Linked DNA regions of Homo sapiens. Changing the gene in region 1 together with any one later gene gives a genetic interaction. Each region holds a gene or a part of one and is shown on either strand. Other genes may lie near its edges.

What was found. Genes that interact genetically often act in the same process or in processes that back each other up.
Region 2: changes in PGK1 (region 1) and MTPAP together harm fitness more than expected from each alone (negative genetic interaction), as found in Homo sapiens cells (one large-scale study listed by BioGRID).

The regions. Positions count from the first base shown.
Region 1 is NC_000023.11:78,107,248-78,110,747, reverse strand, and holds part of PGK1 (phosphoglycerate kinase 1), read right to left. Parts: intron 882-3,500; coding exon 831-881; intron 1-830. UniProt on the Homo sapiens protein: Catalyzes one of the two ATP producing reactions in the glycolytic pathway via the reversible conversion of 1,3-diphosphoglycerate to 3-phosphoglycerate.
Region 2 is NC_000010.11:30,335,779-30,339,278, reverse strand, and holds part of MTPAP (poly(A) RNA polymerase, mitochondrial precursor), read left to right. Parts: intron 1-2,251; coding exon 2,252-2,476; intron 2,477-3,500. UniProt on the Homo sapiens protein: Polymerase that creates the 3' poly(A) tail of mitochondrial transcripts. Can use all four nucleotides, but has higher activity with ATP and UTP (in vitro). Plays a role in replication-dependent histone mRNA degradation.

The DNA of each region.
Region 1 (3,500 bases):
CCATTTGAATGGGGGCTTGTAAAACTACATATAACCTTAGTAACTACTGGTACTTTTAAAATCCTTCTCTTACATAGTTCTTCATTTTGCAAGAGAAGCCAAGTAACCTTAAATTTTTATATTTTTTGTGTGTGTTTTATAGAGATGGTGTCTTACTATATTGGCCAGGCTGTTCTCGAACTACTGGCCTCAAGCAATCCTCCTGCCTCGGCCTTCCAAAGTGCTGGGATTACAGATGTGAGCCACCGCACCCAGCCAACTTTTATATTCTTTAAAAATGAATAACTCTGCCAGGTATGGGGGCTTACACCTGTGGTCCCAGCACTTTAGGAAGCCAAGGCAGGAGGATCACTTGAGTCCAGGAGTTTGAGAACAGCCTAGGCAACATAGTGAGACCCCATCTCTACAAAAAAAAATTTTTTTTTAATTTAACCAGGTGTAGTGGTGTGCACCTGTTGTTCCAGCTCCTCGGGAAGCTGAGGCCAGAGGACTGCTTGAGCCCAGAAGGTTAAGGCTGCAGTGAACCGTGATCACACCACTACACTCCAGTCTGGGTGACAGAGTGAGACCCTATCTCAAAAAAAGAAAATGAACTCCAAATTCTTCTAATTTTCAAAAAACAAGGGAAGGGGAATCACTTTCTTAAGATTTTGCTTATATTTGTATATTCTCATAAATAAGAAAGCAGATCAGAGAGTGGGTTGATAGAAAGCCAAAATCATTTGTTTTAAGTTGCTACAGTTCCATAATACAATATGAAAGGAAAAACATTTCATCCTGTGTACCTACACACATCTTAAACCCAGCCCAAGGATTAGCAGGGACCTTACCTCTGGTTGTTTGTTATCTGGTTGTTCTTCATAGGAACATTGAAGTCGACTCTAAAAAAGAAAGATGCAAGACCATGATCAACTTACTGTTCCATCAAAGACTAGGAGATGCATTTTTAATGAACCAGTTAAATAAGTCAGAAATTCAAATCTCATCTTAAAAATAATCAGTGGCATTAAAAGTCAAAATAGTGGTTAGTCATGGGGAGGATGGCGGGAGTGGTGACTGGGATAACGACACCAGAGGCTTTGGGGTTCTGGTAATGTTCTATCTCTTAACCTCAGTGACCATACAAATGTGCTCATTTTGTGGTAATTCTTTGAACTTGTGATTTGTGCCCTTTTAGGTATGTATTCATACTTTAAAAAGAATTTTAAAAAAAAAACCTAACTTAAATCACAGGAACTAGCCCTGAAGATCTGGGAAGCTAAAGCTAGTTCCACCTAAAAAGATATCTGTCTGGGCCTGGCACAATAGTATCCGGGTAGCAGCTAGAGGGGTGAGGAATAATAAGGAATGCATCTTGATCCTAATTCCCTTGATACTATTTCTGGGTCCTCGTGAAACTAACATGACTCGAGAAAAAAATTAAAATAAAAATAAAACACACTAAGAGAAAATCATTCTTTTTGGAGAAAGCCTGGGGCCTTAAGACTAGGGGTCCTTCAAGCAATACACACAACATAAGACAGCCTCTTTCAAAAAGCCTGAGAAGAGAGGGTGGGACATGTGCCCCAGCCCACCTGACAAACAGGCAAATTAGAAGGGAAGTAATCAAGACGACACAAGAAAATAATGTACTGCAGTATCTCTTACCCAACAGATTACTATGTTATCATTCTTAAGAACCAATTATTCTGAACTCCTTGGAACCTCAGCCTACTTCAATGTGAATGAAAACAATAATGTATGGCAGCTATTTTTAAGGTTTAAGAGTTGTGCCTGCCATGATTATTTTTAAGTGATTTTTTTCTCATCGGGATGACAGTATCTACCTCGTAGTTACTGAGAGAATTAGTAAGTCAGCAATTTGTAAAGTGCTTAGAAGTGTACCTGACACACAGTAAATGCCATAAAAGTGTTGTTGTTATATGTTTCTCCAAAATGTAATTCTGTGATTTGACAAGTAAATCAACCACTACTAAAAACAGCTAACATCACTTGCAAAGGGACTACAGTGAAGTATGACCTAATCAAGAAGACTGCTGCTATCCTTGATTATAAGCCTCCATCTTTTTCCTCTGCCTTTTTAAATACCCCTTCCTCTCTAAGGCTAAGGCAATTACAAACTCCTACAGACATACTGAGAAGACCACCAATTTCCTATATCCACTAGGCCTGAACTCCAATCTACCTCACTGAAGAACAGCCTTTCCAAAGGTAGGCTGAGGAAAAATAATTCTATAGTAAAACATGTTTTAAAGTCTTCAAAATTAAAGGCAGTAAGCCTCTGATGAAAGAAATACACTCTACTTTGTTTCAGGCCACTTGATTCTCTGTCTTCTTTAAATATCCTGAACAAGGAGCCTGCCAGCCTTAAAGTACATTCCAAAGAAGAGAGAATATCCCATTACCATGGGTCATTTTCCCCCATGCAACCTCCCAGAAGGCCTATGCTCAAAAGGACTAATGGCAAAAGGATGGGCACAAGCCACTTCTTGCAGTGCTACTCTCTACCCCCAACCCTTACAGGGAGGAATATCTTTGGACAGAGACACCTAAGAAACTGTCTCATCTATCCAAGCTGCCATGGTGTCAGCTTACTAATGAATTAGACTTGGTTGATACTCTCTCCTCAATGCCCTCTGGATTACCTCCCCTTATCTCCTACACTCACAACAGCTCTGCTTTTAGCTTCTCCTCAGAGGACTCCAACACAGGAACTGCTCTTGCCTACAGATTCTACTTGTTCCATTTTACATAAAATATGCACAATTTTCTTTTTTTTTTTTTTCGTTTCCTTATAACACCCCTGAGCTTTGCTTCAGGCACAAAGTCAGTTATTACTACATATCCATCAGAACGAAAAATAACTAAAATAGCTGGTAATGAAGCAGAGAAACTGATTACTCAAATACTGCTGGTAGAAATGTGAAATGCTGCAGCCACCTTGGAAAACAGTCTGGGGATACCTCAAAAGGACGTGGCCCAGCAATTCCACTCCTAGGTGTTTACCCATGAAAAATGACAGCGTATGTCCATACCAAGACTTGTATACAAATGTTCACAGCAGCTGTATTTGTAATAGCCCCAAATCAGAAACAACCCTAATATCCTTCAATGATAGTTAAACAAACTATAATACAACCACACCATGGAATACTACTCAGCAATACACAGGTATGAACTTTTGATACATGTGACAATGTGGATAAATTTTGAGGACATTATGCTAAGTGAAAAAAGTTAATCCCAAAAGGTTATATACCATGTGATTCAATCTGTATAGTATTTTTGAAGTGACAAAATTTTAGAAACAGTGGACAGATCAGTAGTTACCAGGAGTCAGGAAGGGGGGTGGTTATTATTATAAAGAGGTAGCATGAAGGAGATCTTGGTGGTGATCTAATAGTTCTGTATCTTGATTGTGGTGGCGGTTACACAAATCTACGCACGTAATAAAATGGCATAGAACCATACACACTTTATACCAATGTCAATTTCCTACT
Region 2 (3,500 bases), on another chromosome or scaffold:
CTGACCTCAGGTGATGTGCCCACTTCGGCCTCCCAAACTGCTGGGATTATAGGTGTGAGCCACTACGCCCGGCCCAAGATTCTGTCTCTTCTGTGTTCAAATATTGTTTGTATTTGTCTTGGTGTTTTTTTGTTTGTTTGTTTTTGTTTTTGTTTTGAGACGGACTCTTGCTCTGTCGCCCAGGCTGGAGTGCAGTGGCGTGATCTCAGCTCACTTCAAGCTCCACCTCCTGGGTTCACGCCATTCTCTTGCCTCAGCCTCTCAAGTAGCTGGGACTACAGGCGCCCACCACCATGCCCGGCTAATTTTTTGTATTTTTATTAGAGACGGGGTTTCACTGAGTTAGCCAGGATGGTCTCGATCTCCTGACCTTGTGATCCGCCCGCCTTGGCCTCCCAAAGTGCTGGGATTATAGGCGTGAGCCACTGCACCTGGCCTGTCTTGGTGTTTCTTACTCAGACTTGCCAGACCTTGCTAGTCTTTCCAAAGAATCAACTCATGGCTTTATTTATCAAAATATTATTTTCAAGGTTTAATTTTCTAATAAGAAAATTTTTGCTTCTAATCTATTTCCTTTACTTTTATTGTTATTATTATTATTTTGAGACAGAGTTTTGCTCTTGTTGCCCAGGCTGGAGTGCAATGGCCTGATCGTGGCTCACTGCAACCTCCGCCTCCCAGGTTCAAGCGATTCTCCTGCCTCAGCCTCCCAAGTAGCAGGGATTACAGGCACGCGCCATCACACCTGGCTAATTTTTTGTATTTTTAGTAGATTTGGGGTTTCACCACGTTGGCCAGGCTGGTCTCTAACTCCTGATCTCATGTGATCTGCCTGCCTTGGCCTCCCAAAGTGCTGGGATTACAGGCATGAGCCACCGAGCCCGGCCTCTTTTATTATTTTTGAGTTGAATGCTTAGTTCAGTTCAGTTCAGTTATGTTACGTTATGTTATGTTATGTTAATGTTATGTTGTTATGTTAATGTTATGTTGTTATGTTATGTTATGTTACGTTATTTTTTGAGGTGGAGTCTTGCTCTGTTGCCCAGGCTGGAGTGCAGTGGTGCAATCTCAGCTCACTGTAGCTGCATACTCCTGGACTCAAGTGACCCACCTCAGCCTTCTGAGTAGCTGAGACTACAGATGCATTCCACCATGCCCAGCTAGTTTTTGTATTTTTTTTTTTGGTAGAGTCAGGGTTTCATCACGTTGCCCAGGCTGGTCTCACTCCTGAGCTCAAGCGATCCTCCCGCCTTGGCCTCCCAGTAGTTCACAGGTGTGAGCCACTGTGCCCAGCCAGTTGATATTTTCAATGTTGGTTTCAAATAAGAGCATTTGAAGTTACGATTTTTTTTCACTTCAGATACTCCAGTACACAATTTCAGTATGTGATCATTTTAATGCCAGTCTTCTAGTGGATAGACAGGATTGTTATTCTGAGAAACTGAGAGGTCTTGGGCCTTCATTACTTGAGTATTTCTAGTTTTTCTTGCCCTTTAACATTGGTCTTTCATCCCTTTGAGTTTAAAATGTCTAACGTGGTTGTTTTAACCTCTTCTGGAGTACTTTACTACTTTCATTTTCTTAAAACAATACTTTATACTCATCGCTTACAAAGTTTTAATTCTAGCCAACTTTCATTTTGCTAGTGGCATTCCTCAGAGCTTTTTAAAAATTTTAAAATATTATATAATTTATTTCTTTAGTGAAATAGAGACGAGGTCCTGCTGTGTTGCTTAGGCTGATCTCAAACTCCTTGCCTCATATGATCCGCCTTGGCCTTCCAAAGTATTGAGATTACAGGCATGAGCCACCGCGCCTGGCCTTCTCAGTGGTTTTTAAAGAGTATTTTTTTTTGAGACGGAGTCTTGTTCTTGTTGCCCAGGCTGGAGTGCAATGGTGCGATCTTGGCTCACCACAACCTCTGCCTCCTGGGTTCAAGCGATTCTCCTGCCTCAGCCTCCTGAGTAGCTGGGATTACAGGTATGCGCCACCACGCCCGGCTTATTTTGTATTTTTAGTAGAGATTGGGTTTCTCCATGTTGGTCAGGCTGGTCGCGAAATTCCGGCCTCAGGTGATCCACCTGCCTTGGCCTCCCAAAATGTTGGGATTACAGGCGTGAGCCACTGCGCCAGGCTTTGCATATTTCTAAGGTAGGTCTTCAACGCCACCAAATCTTTGAAAGTAAAATGGTAACTTTTTATGCGACCTGTACTTTTTCTCTATTTTGTTGGTTTTGTTTCGGCTAGCTAGATAGACGATCAGCTGAACACTCTCTTGAAGGAGTTCCAGCTAACAGAGGAGAACACTAAGCTCCGATATCTCACCTGTTCTCTTATTGAAGACATGGCCGCCGCGTATTTTCCAGACTGCATAGTCAGACCCTTTGGCTCCTCAGTCAACACTTTTGGGAAGTTAGGATGTGATTTGGACATGTTTTTGGATCTAGATGAAACCAGAAACCTCAGCGCTCACAAGGTAAGTCTATTTCTTTTGACCACTATAATCATGTAAAGTTAAGAAAGTATAAAAAGAAAAATCTTTGAACTTAATAAAATAGAACTGTTGATTTCTAAACTTATTAAACATTGTGGTTAAAGAATAAGGTGTATTTGTTATTGATTCTTTGGTGAAGTCTTTCTTTGTATTGTTCTACTATGTGATCATTTTTGTGAATATTCTGTAGATATGCAATCAAATAGTTAATTGTTTTCAAGTGTTCAGAAATTTTTCAGTTAAGTCAAAGTTACCTATTGTGTTATTCAAATTATGTATCTTAACTAATTTTTTCTTTTTAATCTTGTGATCTAGTTACTGAGATGTTTTTACATCTCATGATTCTTGGTTTTGTTAATTTCTCTTTAAAATTCTTTTGATTTTTGTTTTATCCAAAGGCTATATTAGCTACATATAGGTATACGATCATCATATTTCCTTATTAGATTGTTTTATTATTATATCCCTCATACATGCTTTATTCATCTCTATAAATACTTTTTTCTTAAGTTCTATTTTATTTGTTAATATGGCCGCTTGGTAGTTGTCTCACATGTCTTCTGTTTCTTTATTTTCAGCCTTTATATATGTTATTTTAGTTTGGGTGTATCTCTTATAAATAGCAGTATGCTTTTACTCCAGTCTATCAGTCTTTGAGTTCAATATGTTTATTGTTACTGCTGATAATTCTTGGACTAATTTCTCCTGTTTTATTTTTTATTTCCTATTTTCTGTGCTTTTGCTTTTCACTTTCTTTTATTTATTTATTTTTTTTGAGGCTGAGTCTCACTCTGTCGCCCAGCCTGGAGTGCAATGGTGCAATCTCGGCTCACTGCAACCTCCACCTCCCGGGTTCAAGTGATTTCTCCTGCCTCAGCCTCCTGAGTAGCTGGGATTACAGGCGCCTGCTACCATGCCCAGCTGATTTTTGTATTTTAGTAGAGACGGGGTTTTACCTCCTTGGTCAGGCTGGTTTTGAACTCCTGACCTCAGGTGATCCACACCC